Linked DNA regions of Homo sapiens: region 2 is linked to region 1. The links come from fine-mapping of genetic effects on gene expression. Tissue or cell type: whole blood. Region 1 holds a variant in brackets; the other region holds the start of a gene. All regions are shown on one strand. Distances are between the middles of the regions.

Region 1 (7,496 bases):
CCGGCAGCTGGGCCCCAGCTTGAGCCCAGGAAGTCAAGGCTGCAGTGAGCCGTGATCGGGCCACTGCTCTCCAGCCTGGACGTGCGACAGAGTGAGACTTTGTCTCAAAACAAAACAAAAACCGCTCAGGCTAACGGTTTCTCTGGGTCTTCATTTCCTTATGAAGGCTCGGTGTCAAGTAAAACTTACTTGAATTGTTATGCTTGTTTCCTGTTAATCTCTGTCAGTCTAATTTCCAGGGTCCCAGCCAATGAATCCAAAACCGATAGAAGGAAAGGGTTTTTTCTCAGATTTTGTTCTGATCAGGTCTTTGTAATTTTGTGACAAAGGCCTGAAGGTCTGAATAGGAGGACACAAGGCCTGAGTGAGAGAGAATTCTTCCCGCTTAACCGCCTTCAACCTGGAACATCAGATTTTTCCTGCTTCAGACTCAAACTGACACATGCGCTTTTCCTGGGTCTCGGGACTGGAACGACGCCATTGGCTCTCCTGGGTCTTGGGCCTTCAGGTGGACACCAGAGCCGCAACATGGGCTCTCCCGTGTCTCCAGCCTGCTGATTTACTCTGCCAATCTTGGCACTTGCCAACCTCTGTAATGAGGTGAGCCAACTCCTCATAATAATAAATCTCTTTATCTAAACACACGTACACACCTTCTATTGGTTCTGTTTCTCTGGATGACCCTAATACAATCACTTTGTGAATACAGCAAAACCATTGAACTGTAGATTTTAAAAAGGTCAACGTCACAGTATGTGAATTCTATCTCCATAAAGCTATCACTTAAACAGCAACAAGAAGCTGGTGAGCCCTGTGCACTCCTCTGCAAACAAGAGCAGGGACAGCGTCGTCCTTGCCCTCGGATGTCCCCAGCCTCCAGCCCGAGTCTAGGAACATCTTTCATGTGTCCCCTCCTTCAATTCTGTAGCCCAAGGGTGGGGGCGGTCCTCAGCCTGGTACCTTCTCTGCAGCTCCTCACCCTCTCCTCACACCAGCCAATGGACACAGAGGTCCCCCCATGGATTTTTATTTTTATTTATTTATTTTTATTTTTTTGAGACAGAGTCTCACTCTGTCGTCCAGGCTGGAGTGCAGTGGTGTGATCTCGGCTCACTGCAACCTCCGCCTCCTGGATTTGAGTGATTCTCCTGCCTCAGCCTCCCGAGTAACTGGGATTACAGGCACGTGCCACCACACCCAGCCAATTTTTTGTATTTTTACTAGAGGTAGGGTTTCTCCATGTTGGCCAGGCTGGTCTCGAACTCCTGACTTCAGGTGATCCACCCGCCTCAGCCTCCCAAAGTGCTGGGATTAGAGGTGTGAGCCACCAAGCCCAGCCTCCCCACAGATTTTTAAAAGGGCCCTGGGTAACACAGACTGGGATCTGCTAAGTCACTAAATGACCCTTTTAAATAAAGAAGGAAGTCATAAACCTCCACTTAAAAGGAGTGGGGGATGGCAACAGAAACACAGCCAGTCAGAAGCCGGAAGGGTCTCACTCAACTCATCCCCAAGGTCTCTGGGCAGAAGGGACAAGGGAAAACCTGCCTCCCAAACACCCCACTCGGCACCCCACTCCCCGGATGCAAGATGCAGCTGTGCATAGCGGCAGCAGTGAGGACCCTGGCCTGGCAGGCCCCCACATCCCTTGCTGAGGGCTCCAGGGGCCAGGGCTGCTCAACAGGACCAAGAGGAAATGACCACAGGAGCCCCCAGCTGCTGGGGGTGGCCCCCGCGGTTTCCTGGGCCATTTCTGGTGAACCCACTCCAAATCTGGAAGAGGCCCAAGCCCTCTCGCTCCCCGTATCCCAAACCCCAGCCACGCCAGCCAGGAGCCTTGGGGGATGAGAAAAAATTCAATTAAGCCCCACTGTGCTGGGTGACATAGGACCCAGAAGGAGAGGGGCCCCTGGACTGCTCAAGTTTAATGATAACTTCAGCAGCTGGGTCCCCAAGTTAATTAGCTCTTTCCTCCCCAGCAGTCCTCGGGGAGCACCACGGTGAGCTGTGAGGAGCCAGCCCAGCACGGCACACACAACGTAGGGGCCTTCCCGCACTCCCACTCCACAAACACCAGGGCCCCTCGGGGGACCAGCCTCCCATCCCTGAGTCATTTCTCCCCCACCGCTCTCTCAACAAGGAACAGAGAAGGAGCTTCTACTGCTTAACCAGATGTAGAAACTGACGCACGCACAGAGAGGTCACGTGTGATATGGTTTGGACGTTGTCCCCTCCAAATCTCATGCTGAAATGTGATCCCTGATGTTGGAGGTAAGGCCTGGGGGGGGTGGGGCTTGGGTCATGGGGGTGGATCCCTCATGGATGGTTTGGTGCCCTCCCCACGGTCACAAAGTCCGGGAGATCTGATTGCTATAGAGTCTGGGAGGGCTGGGTGAGGTGGCTCACACCTGTAATCCCAGCACTTTGGGAGGCCAAGGTGGGTGGATCACAAGGTTAGGAGTTTGGGACCAGCCCGACCAACATGGTGAAACCCCATCTCTAGTAAAAATACAAAAAAATTAGCCGGGCGCGGTGGCATGCGCCTGTAATCCCAGCTACTCAGGAGGCTGAGGTTGCAGTGAGCCGAGGATTGTGCCACTGCACTCCAGCCTGGCTGACACAGCGAGACTCCATTTCAAAAAAAAAAAGAGTCTGGGAGTTCTCTCTCTCGCCATGTGACGTGCCAGCTCCCCCTTCACCTTCTACCATGAGGAAAAGCTTCCTGGGGCCTCCCCAGAAGCCAAGCAGATGCTGGCACCACTTGTACAGCCTGCAGAACCGTGAGTCAAATAACCCCCCAGCCTCGGCTATTCCTTATAGCAACTCAAAATGGACGAACACAATGTATTAGTTTCTCTTTCTGGACCCCACAGTGTGCCTGGCTGGGGCTGTGCTCTGGGGAAATGGCAACTGCGAGGTCCTCACAGACCGGGCCCGGGTCTTAACCACAGCCGCATCTCAGCGCCTTGATATTGCTGAGTGGATGCCCAAAAAGCACTGCTGGGTGAATGTGCGAGTGAATGATGAAGATGGAGGTGGCTGTTGGTGCCAGGGCAAGGCCCCAGGAGTCTGGGGAGGTGGCACCAGGCAGTTCAGGTCAACGGCTAACCCTGGACAGGGCCAGGAGGCAGCCAGAATGGTTAAGGACAGCTAAGGGACTTTAGGCAAGTGGTCTCACTCTTCCCAGGCGGGCAGGAAGCAGGAATCAGACCAAGGGGTGCCAGGTGGTAGTGGCACTCAGGGGGCCTGAGGAGCAGGTGCAGGCTCAGCAGGGCTGGTGGTGCCACGTGTGGGGCCGACCGTGGCCCCGTTCACTGCCTCCACCTCCTGGACGCATGGGCCCATGGCCCCCAAGGCCCTCCTCTGTCCCCACGCCCACCTTTCCAGGCTCCACTTCCAGACGCCAAGCCATTTTCTCACTCCCATCTCTCCCGTTGCCCCTATATCTGAGCTGACCTCCTCCCTGAGCTCTGGTGAAATTCTAGAGAGCCCAGAGGTGCAGCTCACACTCCTGCGCCACAAGGCCTTTGCAGTCTCCACCTTCCTGGGACACTCCATCTTAGAGCTGGGTGTGTACTTATCTCACTGGATCAGAAACTTCAGGAATGCCCATCTTGCATGCTCCTGCTCCCCACTTCCCGCCCGCCACTCAGCCCGTGGCTGCCATGTGGTTGGGCCTTGGCAGCCACCGCAGCTGGTAACACACAATTAGCACTTCTGTGTCCAGGTTCCGTGCTGAGCCTCTTCAGTTTCATCCCCGTTTGTCCTCAAAATGGTCCCTGACATGGTAACCATCATTATCCATTTTTCAGACAAAAGACCATAGCTCTAGGAGAGGAGGAATGGCAGGTCTGAGGCCACGTGGTTCGTAACAGGCAAATGGACCCGGCAGTCACTCTACCCTCGAGTGGGGCTCCTCCCTGTCTGCAGACCTCGCTGAGGTTTTAGAGCCTGGAGCCAGTGAGTCTCCACTGAGCACAAGGACAGCGGCGGTGCCGGGGCTGGAACAAGGCAGGGAGGGGCCTCCCAAATCACAGTCCTGGCTGTGGACCCACCTTGGGACCCCGCCCTGGCTGGGAACCTTGCTCCAGCCCACCCGGGACACCTTCCCACCCTGAGTCCTGCACTGGGCTGTGCACGGGGTCTGCTGAATGAGTGAGGGCAGGAGGGATGGTGAGCAGGGTGGAAAGCGACTATGGTGGGTAGGCTTCTGCTGGAAGCTTGAAACATTCCTGGCGAGCAGGAAAATACCAGGGGAAGAGGTTACAGCCCTCAGAAGGGCTCGCTGGGGACTGTCCTGCAGCCCTCTCATCGGGACAGGCAGAAAATCCAGCCCCCCTTCAGGGTGAGTCCAGGAAGCCTGTGGGGGCACAGGCTCTAGCTAGGGTGGCGCGTGGGTTTACCCAGGGGACGCTGCCGTGGCCCAGAGTTAGGTTAAACCTCATGTATTCTGTAAATAATTATTTATAATAAACAAGGCTTATTCACCCTCTAAGAAGAGTAAAACATTACAGGAGGCACTTTCTCACCAACTAAACACGTCATAGTGACTTCACTGCGTCACTGAGGGAGGGCACCAGGGTGCCCGGTCCAGAGTAAACTGTGGCCAGGGGGACGGGCACACTGCCAAATCGGCCAGACCTCCACCCCTGAAAATGTGGGCTAAATTCTCTTCAACAAGTTACAAGGAAATTCAGTGTGAACCCCATGTTTCCACCACTATCGGCTGTTCTGGAAGACTGGGAGGAGGGGTCTTGCCTTTTCTCCACTCTTGGTCACAGGGTTTGAGGCCACAACTTGGACTGGGACCCCAATCTCCTTCCTGGGGAA[G/C]AGGCTCATTCAGGGTGTCTGCCAAGGCCCAGCGCATAAACACGGAACTCGCTTAACGTCTGCTCCGGCACCTCTGGGCCTCCCACACTGGGTTCCCCTATCTGACCCCTCAAGCAGTGAGAGTGATGGGACATGGGGCGCCTCTAGGGGAGACTTGGGGAGATGGAGCAAGCTTCCCAGCCCAAGGTGAGGTCCCGAGGCATGGTCCATGCAGTGATGCTTCTCACGGGAGGCCTGAGGCATGACCAGGAGCTTGGAGACTCAGCAGAGGTCTGGGCATGGGACTCTCGGTACGCAGCCAGAGCGAGGGCCGAGGCTGTATGGATGCAAGCAGGTGACCCTGTGCCATCGGGTGCCATCTGTGCCGGGCCCTGTGCAGCCGTCCCCATCTCACTGAGCTTCAGGGAGGTGAGGCAACCATCCCAGGCACACAGCCCCGGGGGCAAAGGCTGGACCCAGGTGTGTCTGATTCCAGAATTCAAGAAGACAAGTAGAGGAGTCTGAGTCCCCTGAGACCGCAGTGATGGCTTAGTGCCTCAGGATGGCCAGGCTGGCTCCTGCAGCTTTAGTCAACCGTGCCCTCCTTCAGTCATCCAGGGTCCCAGCGCTGGTCCCTGAGACCTGGTACTGGCCATAGGGGCCCATCTCTGGCTGTGGACATCTAGTGCTGGTCACTGGGATCTGGTATTGGCCGTGGGGACTTGTCCTTGGCTGTGGGGACCCAGCGCTGGTCCCTGAGACCTGGTACTGGCCATGGGGACCCGTCCCTGGCTGTGGGTACCCGGTGCTGGTCCCTGAGATCTGGTACTGGCCATGGGGGCCCGTCCCTGGCTGTGGGTACCCGGTGCTGGTCCCTGAGACCTGGTACTGGCCATGGAGGCCTGTCCCTGGCTGTGGGTACCCGGTGCTGGTCCCTGAGATCTGGTACTGGCCGTGGGGGCCCATCCCTGGCTGCAGGGACTCAGTATTGTCTATGGGGTCTGTCCCTGGCTTCGGGGAGCCAGTAGTGCCTGTGGGGCCCATACCTGGTGGTGGGGACCTGGTGCTGGAGGATCCTGACAGCAAAACCACAGAGGCGACAGGTAACAGCAATCCATTAGCACAGCGTGTGGCCTGCCCTAGCCACGGCACCTTCCTCCACTCTGTGCCCTCTCACCACAAAGCCTAGTGCAGGTAACGAAGCCAAGAGGTGGAGAACCCGCAGGAGGACGCACACCACACCTGCTCCTCGTGTGGCGTCCCTGCACCCTGGGTGGCTGAGACCCCCTGCTCCTCCTCCAGGCCTCTCCGTGCCAGGTCTGCGCTGTTCTCCCTGGCCTCGGCTCCCACCCACCCGGCCCCCCAGCTACAGACAGCAGCGATTCTCCCTCCCACTCAATGGGGCCACTGTCCAGCCCATCATTAGTCTTCAGGGCTGGCAGATGACACCGGCCACGGGCAGTGTTTCCTCCGGCCCCAGCACACAAGGCACAAAAGACACCATCCTGCCCCAAGACCCTCCTAGTCACGTGGCGCATGGGAAGCGGTGCCGGGAATCTTCCAGGGCAGTCCCCTGCCCCGGGGGAGATCGTGTTCAAATCCCCGAGGAAATGCTGCTCTTTGGCCCTTTTTCTGAAAAACCCCCCAAGGAGACCTTGTGCGGAGCGTGCAGGGAGAATGGAGATTCTTGTGAGACTGTCTCGGGATAGCCTCACAGAAACCACAAACTATTTGGATAAAAGTTGAAAATCTGCGGTCACACAATGCTGACCATTCATTCAAACACTCGTTGAGCAAGCACCTATGACGTCTGGGAACTCAGGACGTGGATCGACAAGACACAATCCTCATGTCCGTTCTAGTGACAGAGAGAGAGACGGCACCATCAACCCCGCCCGCTGGGGGCCCCCTTGGAGGGGGCGTGCAGGTTCAGGGCTGAATCTGCCCAGTGGATGTGCCACCCACGTCTGCGTACCTCCTGGTCCTGTGGTGGCCCCTGGAACAAAGGCTGAGAGATAAAAGACAAGGATCTGGGGGAGGGAGGACGTCCATGCACATTCCACTGGGGACACCAGCAAGGATGACTGTTCAGTGACCATTCAGTGACCGAGTCACCTGGTGCTTGGAGCCTGGCACCCACAGAGCAGGGCGGGGGCAGCAGGCCCTGCCGGGGGCACAGGCCTGAGAAGGGAGTGCTGCCAGCCAGGCTCGACGGGACAGAGAGCGAAGGGCCCCCTTCCTGAAGGCCATGCAGAGGCCGGAGGTCAATGTCAGCAACTCCATCAACGTCAGTCCCCTGAGACCGACCCAGAGTTGGGGTTCCAAGAGCAGTCTTGGGCGCTCAGGAGCCAAGATCTCACAGAGGGTGTTCCCCACCCTTAGCTTAGGGAAAGTGACAAATCTGGAGTGCTTCTGCCCATGGTCCAACTACTGAACCCAAATGAATGCATTGACAAATCGCATTTAGTGTTATTTATAGGGAAAAGGGAGGGAAAAAAAAAAAAGAAAGAGAGCCAATCGCGTTTAGGCCGGCCGGCCAGGGGGAGGACAGATGGGCCATCACCTCTGCCACTTTTCAGGCCCTTTGCACTGACCCCCCACCCCCAGCAAAACCAAGGCCCAGCCCCTTCCCGCAGCCCCGGAGTCGGCTGGGATGAAGCAACTCCTGCAGGCAGATCATTAGGTCT
Region 2 (7,496 bases), 180 kb after region 1:
GGAGGCTTCTGGAACGTCCTAGCAATGGCGTAACCCCAGCCTTCTCCATCCTCCTGTCAATGACAATCATGATCATGACAGCAGCTAACAGGTTACAGAGCAGGCATTTCTCAGCTTTTTCAAATATGAACTCGTTTAACCTTTACAACAACATAGCACTGTCCCATTTAACAAATGAGGCAGGCTGGGCGTGGTGGCTCATGCCTGTAATCACAGCACTTTGGGAGGCCAAGGCAGGCAGATCACGAGGTCAGGAGTTCGAGATCAGCCTGACCAACATGGTGAAACCCCATCTCTAGTAAAAATATAAAAATTAGCTGGGCGCAGTGGCACGTTCCTACAATCCCAGCCACTCAGGAGGCTGAGGCAGGAGAATCACTTGAACCTGGGAGGCGGAGGTTGCAGTAAGCTGAGATCATGCCATTGCACTCCAGCCTGGGAGACAGAGTGAGACTCCGTCTCAAAAATAAATAAATAAATAAAATTAAAAAACACCACACACACAAAAAAACAAATGAGGCAAATGAGATGCATGAGGTGAGAACCTTGTGCCACAGGGAGAGGCGCAGCCTGGTGAGATTTAATCCCAAGGGGCTGGCGGCTCTGAGCCCCCAAGTGTAACCACTGGACCACACTGCCTGTAGACTACCACTACCTCCACCCCATTGGAAGGCCGGGTGAGGCAATCGGGAAAGCCTGGAGCAGCAGTGGAGCTGCCAGAGAGAACCTGTCCCCAGTGTCCCCCTGGATCCTGCAGCTGCCCTGTGTGGGCCCTTGCTGCCTTCCGCATTGGAAAAGACCTTCTTACAGATGGGGTCTCATGACGCCACCCAGGCTGGAGTGCCGTGTCTATTTCCAGGCGCTGTCACAGGGCTGCAGCCTTGAACTCCTGGCTTCAAGCGATCCTCCTGTCTCAGCCTCCTGAGTAGCCTCCTGGGCTCAAGCGATCCTCGTGTCTCAGCCTCCTGAGTAGCCTCCTGGGCTCAAGCGATCCTCGTGTCTCAGCCTCCTGAGTAGCTGGGACTTCAAGCGCACCTGGCCAAGTCCCTTTTTATTCTCCACTACTCAAGACTTCTCCTTCCTCAAGGCCCAGCTCAATCTCACCTCCACCTAAAACCTCCGGGGCATTCCTGTAGTATTTGGAGGCTGAACTGCTCAGGAGGGAAGGGTGTTAATGAGCTGGTGTCTCGCCCTCATCCTGACTCCCGGTGAGAATGTAAGTTCTCTGCAGGCAAGGACTATATCTCATTACCATTTCTGTACCCACTCAGACTTGGCCATGTGTGCCCAGCACATAAAGTGTCTTCGATGACTGTCTATAGACCCACGGTACTTGAGATTGCCCCAACACATCCTTCTAAAATCTTTCTCCTTTTCAGAGGCTCACGAATGTTCAAACCAGGTCTACCGGGAACAACATTATGGTCATTCCGTTTATTCTGAAGCCCACATACAGGTCTGGAAGCAATAATCCCGCACAGTCTAGATGAAAAAATAAAGACCTTCCTGTTGTCCTTGGATTGTCAGAGCCTTGGGGGATTTTTAACATCTTTTGCTGCTTTCCTTAATTTCATGGTGTCGATGGCTTGTTGGGGGGTCAGCCTGACTCCTGCGAGTGCCCGTACCCGGAAAAGGGCTGGTGCCAAGACAGCTCCAGGACACTCAGAATGAGGGCAAGAGGCCACCCCCACCATCAGCCCCCTCCAGTCCCACTCCATACAACTGCAACACAGTGACCCAGCACACCTTGGGCCACTGCCAAGCAGGGAGCAAACCAGAAATGGTCTGAGCCCTCCCTTCCCCCATCCTCAGAGGGGCCTGCCCCTTTAGGTAAACACAAGGAGGCACCGAGGCTGCTGTACAAGAGTTGGTTCCTGCTCACTCCACAAACTCTACTTCCACCTACTGCAAAAGGTTCTGTCCTTTTTTTTAAAAAAAAAAAAAAAAAAGAAACCCAGTGAGGGGTGGGGTAGGTGTGTGTGGAGGAGAGGAGAAAAGGACAAGTGATGGTCTCCCCACCTCCCAGTAAGCCGCAGGTGCAGAGACTCCAAGCCTGCCTCAGGGCCCTTCCGGCATCTGTGCAGGAGGGTCTCCGCAGAAAAAACCCAGGACCCACGACCTGGGAGGACCCCGGTCACCCCCACTGTCTGGACCCACCAGTGGGAGGTAAAGTGTAAGAAACCAAGGGCAAAGGGCCCTCCCTGGGCGGGCTAGAGATCCCCTGGAAAGGGCCATGCACCGCGCGATCCCCACAACAATCTCAAGTATTTGGAGCATGTTGGGGAGGAAGCCCCGGTGCCAAAACCAAGCATGTGCCACCTGGAAGCCCGCTCCCGCCCACCAGCACACCAACCCACCCACGCTCCTGACAGAGCTGTGCTCCGGGTGCGTAGAGGGCCATCTTGTTCGCAACAACCGGGTGAAAGTTGAAATTCTAAGCTACTGACCCAGAAGGGTATTTTCGGGGAAGTTCTGAGTAATCCTCTTTGAGACAAGGTACTTTATCACTCATTTTGGTTCCTAAATATGGAAAGCCAGAGGAAACCGACAATGGCCCAAAGGCAGGGGGATGGCCCCGATGACTCCTTCACCTCCAACTAAGGCCCATGATTCTGTTCTCCTATCAATAAAAATTAATTCATGGATCCTTGGCAGGTACCTTTCTATCTGAATGAATTAAAGGAGGGACATTAAACAAACGGTTTCTAGATTTAGAAGAGGAGACGCTATTTATAATTTGAGGACTGAGGAGGACAAAGGATCCTGCCTGCCTGGATCCTTTGGAGAAAACCACAAAGGAAAAAAAAAAGGAAGGAAAAGACAAATAATGAAGATCTGGATTTCTCTTAACCTGCCCTTGTGGCCTCGGTGTGCCCATCTGTGAAATGGAACTTCAGAGTGCCAGAGCGGGAGCCTCTTATGAAATGAAAGCTCCTGAACCGGCTCATGGTGAGGCCCAAGTCAGGCCCCCTTCGCCTACTTAAGGCGGGCCCTGCTAGGGTGGAGTGAGGATGTCAGCCGCGGGCGGCGTCCTGAGCGCAAAACGTGAACCCGAGTCGCCAAGTTTGGGCGCTGCTGGACGGTCCCATCTGGAGGCCGTCCCGTGCCCCACTAAGTAGAGGAGAAACCGAAGAGAATCCGAAGAAAGGATGCTGCGGCCTGGACCACCAGCCCTAGAGGCTGAACCCAAGGACACCCCTCCACCTAGCCCCGACCCCATTCACCCACACAGACGCACAGGGACCCAAAGCACCCGGCCGACCTGGAAAGTCAGCGATTCCTGCGAGGGTGCAAGGGGCGAGGAAGAGGGAGCGTCCCCCAGGGCAGCCCCTCCGACACTCGAGCAAGGGCTGGAGACAGCGCAGGGGACGGTCGGCTCAGGTCGAAAGCGGCCCGACAGCGGCCCTGTCCTGGGAGGAACTCGACCTGCAGTGTGCCCGCCGCGGGGACTCGCTCAGCTCCGGGGGCGCCTCGCCACTCCCGGCCGCAGGCACTCAGGTGAGCAGCGCTGGTCCCGGGACACCGACCCCTCCCCACCCCGGGCGCGAAGCCCACCTGAGTAAGACTTCTTCATGGTGCCTCCGTGGCCGCCGCTCCCAGGAAAGTGTGGCGGCGAGGCAGCGGGGCGCGCGCTCCCAGGGCGCTAATCCTGGGCCGGTAGTAGGAAGGCGGGAAGAGGGGGCGGCCCGCCGTCTGGAGTGCACCGACCGGGCCCCGCCCCGGCCCCGCCCCCGCCCCGCCCCTCCCCGGAGATGCGCATAGAACCCCGGCCCAGCCGGCTGTGGTCCCGCCCCTGACCCGCCCCCTCCCCGCCCCGTGAACGTGCGCGCCGAGCCCCACCCCCGCCCACCCCTGCGCTGCGCTGCACCTGGCGGAGCGGGGCTGGCGGGCGCCGGGCCTGGGAGGGGGCGCCCCCGCGCGGCAGCGCAGACCAGACCAGACCAGGCCAGGCCGGGGGTGGGGGCCGCCTGCGTGGCCCGCCGCGCCCGCAGCTCTGCACCCCCAGCTCCCCGCGCTGGCGCCAATGGCTGGTTCCGGGAGTCGCCGCACTTCCCAGTCCCGAGTCCGGGCGGGGCGGGCCCGGCCAGGTGGAAGCGGGCGGAGGTGCGGGCGCTCCGGGCGGCCCCGCCGGGCGAGGCGGCGGCGCCGGGCACCGCGGCGGCGCCGGGCACAGCCGGGGGTCGGAGCCGGGGTGCCGGCTTAGTGGGCCGGGGTAGGGCGGGACAGGACACCTGTCCTGCTACTTTTCTGGTAATCAAAAGGGCAGAGTGCGTCGATTGAGTTGGAGCCTTAGTTTCCTCACCTGTAAATGGGCGCGTTGGACAGATGATCATTTGTTCTCCCTGCGCTGGGCACCGTGCGCAGCTCGGTGTATCGGTGCAGCGGGGCAGACACAGGGAGCCGCCCTTTACAACTCGGGTAACGCAGGCAGTGGTGAGAGGATGCAAAACTTGCACGGAAGAATTCTCTCTACTTGGATATCCTTAAAGTCTCCACGATAAAGCGGTGTTTCCAACGTACAGAGGAAGAAGTGACTAATTATGACTGGAGGGTGGTGTCAGAGTTTTATTGAGGCGAAATCAAAACAGGGTTTTAAGGAATGAGCAGGAATTAGCCAGGCAGCCAAGGTGATGGAAGGCAGCTGTTCCCGAAAGAGGGAAGGGCGTGGCGGAGCCTGGGAGGCCTGAGGTATCACAGCGAGTGTGGAGAGACAGAGGCAGGGCCGGGCCCTTGCACAGCTGCCAATGGAGGCCGTAGAGGACGAGAGGAAGGCGGGAGGCCAGTTGGGAAGCGCTCGCTAGTTCTGGGTAGGGGCGCAGCATTGCCTTCTCCTGCAGCCCTCCCAAAAATGCACAGGAGGCTGAAAGTGTCACTAACAGCCCCGAAAAATCCTCCTCCTCTTCCCCTCTCCTTTACTCTCCTTGGGGGTCCAAGAAGCATTTTCATTTCCTGCCTGAGTGTGGGAAACTTATATGCATGAGAACGGAGGCCTATGTGGCACCGTGGGTTCGTTCCGGCCCACCTGCTTCCTTTCTTGAGTAATCTGTCCAGCCACAGCCCTGCAGAGGGAGCAGCCCAGCCAGAGGAGTTTCCCCTCACCCCAGGTAGAGCTGATTGGACCGGAGTGGACACTGGACTTCAACTGAGTCCACCCCTTTCCTTATCTGGGGGTTAGAGGCTCAGGAGGCCTCGGGAGGGAAGTGCTGTAAGGGAGGGGAGCAGGGAGTATGGACGAATTGTGAACAGCGTCCTGGATTCTGGGATGTCCACACCCTAACCGCAACCCCCACCCACACGCCCACTCACCGCTTGTACCAGCACCAGCAGATTCCGGCTTAGGCCGTGTCCTGACTTGGCCAGCAAGCACCATGATGACACTGCCCCCAGCCTAGCCATGATGACACTGCCACGAGCCTAATGCCTGGGATTCCCAAAGTCCAGCGGTGTCTCAAGAATCTGGGTTATGGGTGCATTGCTGGCTTTGTCCATTTTACTCAGCACAAGTCAGAGGTGCCCTGGAGCACAGTCACCCTGAGGATGCCAGCCCTGGCTGTTCCCTGGCTTTGGGTAGGTGGGTTCCTCTGCGGATGCTCACGCTTCTGCCTGGGGTCACAATTCACAGGAACCTGGGCACCCAGGACCCAAGGACACCTGCGTGGAGTGATGTTGGACACATCACATGGGTGCCTCCTGTGTGATGGTTCCTGGATATCCGAATTTTCCTTCCGATTCCAAGAAATCAGAAAGAAGGACAAGAGAGAGGGAGGGAAGGCTGGGAATGAGGGTTCTACACATTTTTGAGATGCATGAAGCTTAATCTGTCATGAAATTAGAGTTAAAAAAAAAAAAGAAAAATTAAAGAGATGCACGAAGCTTAATTGTTTAAGCCTCAAATTTTGTTTTTATTTATTTATTTTTATTTTTTATTTTTTGAGAGGGAGTTTTGCCCTCGTCGCCGAGGCTGGAGTGCAATGGTGCGATCTCAGCTCACTGCAACCTCTGCCTCCCAGGTTCAAGTGATTCTCCAGCCTCAGCCTCTTGAGTAGCTGAGATTACAGGTGCCCGCCACACCTGGCTAATTTTTTTTTTTTTGTAATTTTTTTCTTTTTTAGTAGAGACAGGGTTTCACCATGTTGGCCAGGCTGGTCTCAAACTCCTAACCTGAGGTGATCCCCCCGCCTCAGCCTCCCAAAGTGCTGGGATTACAGGTGTGAGCCACCGCACCTGGTTTATTTATTTATTTATGAGACAGAGTCTCCCTCTGTCACCCAGGCTAGAGTGCAGTGGCATGATCTCAGCTCACTACAACGTCCACCTCCCGGATTCAAGCAATTCTCTTGCCTCAGCCTCCCAAGTAGCTGGGATTACAGGCACACGCCACCACAACCGGCTAATTTTTGTATTTTTAGTAGAGACGGGGTTTTGCCATGTTGGCCAGCCTGGTCTCCAACTCCTGACCTCAAGGTGATCCACCTGCCTAGGCCTCCCAAAGTGCTGGGATTACAGGTGTGAGCCACTGCGCCTGGCCTATTTTTTTTTTATTTTTTTAATTTAATTTTTATTTTTTGAGATGGAGTTTTGCTCTTGTCACCCAGGTTGGAGTTTAATGGCATGATCTTGGCTCACTGCAACCTCTGCCTCCCACATTCAAGCGATTCTCCTGCCTCAGCCTCCCAAGTAGCTGGGATTACAGGTGCCTGCTGCCACCAGGCCCGATTAATTTTTGTATTTTTAGTAGAGATGGGGTTTCACCACGTTAGCCAGGCTGGTCTCCAACTCCTGACCTCAAGTGATCTGCCTGCCTTGGCCTCCCAAAGTGCTGGGATTACAGGCATGAGCCACCACACCCGGCCTAAGCATCAAGTTTTAATTGTTTTTCACAGACAACTCTCTAAAACATATGACACAATCCCCTGCCTTGGTGAGAAGAGCATAGCAAACATATGACTCTTTCCCTCCTGGCTCAGGACCGTCACGATGGCACCTTGAACGGTTATCAACGCACACGCCGCCATCTTACTCCTTCGCAAATGTCCCCAGGCTACTGTGCTATCCAATTTTTAAAAATTGTCTTTCAAACACTCTGTTCCTCCTCCTCCTCCTCCTCCTAATTGAGTGCTTATGACCAGTTGTGTAATTTCCCCAATTCTCAGTGCCCACTCCTATGAAAGGGGAGGGCAGTACCCAACCCCCAACTCACACAGCTGGTGTGGTGATTAGAAAGCTAATGGGTCTGACGTGCCTCACTGTGCTCTGGTCACTAAAATATGAAACACATGGCATTGGCTTTAGGCGCAGGCAGTGGGCAGAAGCCTGGAGGAAGTTGGCAAGGGCTTGCAGGAAGGTTAAGAGATGATCCTGGCCCAAAAGTGCATGACCCTGCTACTCGGGAAGTTGAGGCAGGAGGATCACTTGAGCCCAGTAGGTCAAGATCACCCTGGGCAACATAGTGAGATCACATCTTTTTTTTTTTTTTTTTTTTTTTTTTTTGAGAC

The links. PIP is the estimated chance that this variant, and not a neighbour inherited with it, causes the effect.
Region 2: it holds the start of SEPTIN9, and the variant in region 1 is fine-mapped to the expression of SEPTIN9 in whole blood (INTERVAL, PIP above 0.99). The same link has a PIP of 0.9 or more in monocytes.

The regions. Positions count from the first base shown.
Region 1 is chr17:77,454,866-77,462,361 of GRCh38, reverse strand. All of the region lies in intron 3 of SEPTIN9 (septin 9), which reads right to left. LOC105371903 (a long non-coding RNA gene) reads left to right here and starts at 1,470. Exons shown (of 3, transcript XR_934990.3): 1 at 1,470-1,515; 2 at 1,980-2,039; 3 at 2,141-5,824. RefSeq lists enhancers at 1,842-2,455, 4,795-4,874, 4,299-4,913, 4,914-5,527, 6,177-7,083 and 4 more. The variant G/C (reference allele first, on the strand shown) is at 4,831.
Region 2 is chr17:77,277,614-77,285,109 of GRCh38, reverse strand. It overlaps SEPTIN9 (septin 9), which reads right to left and starts at 3,611. Exons shown (of 12, transcript NM_001113491.2): 1 at 3,556-3,611. The coding sequence starts at 3,574. It overlaps SEPTIN9-DT (SEPTIN9 divergent transcript), which reads left to right and starts at 3,213. Exons shown (of 3, transcript NR_136503.1): 1 at 3,213-3,498. RefSeq lists a silencer at 3,117-3,280 and an enhancer at 4,882-5,529.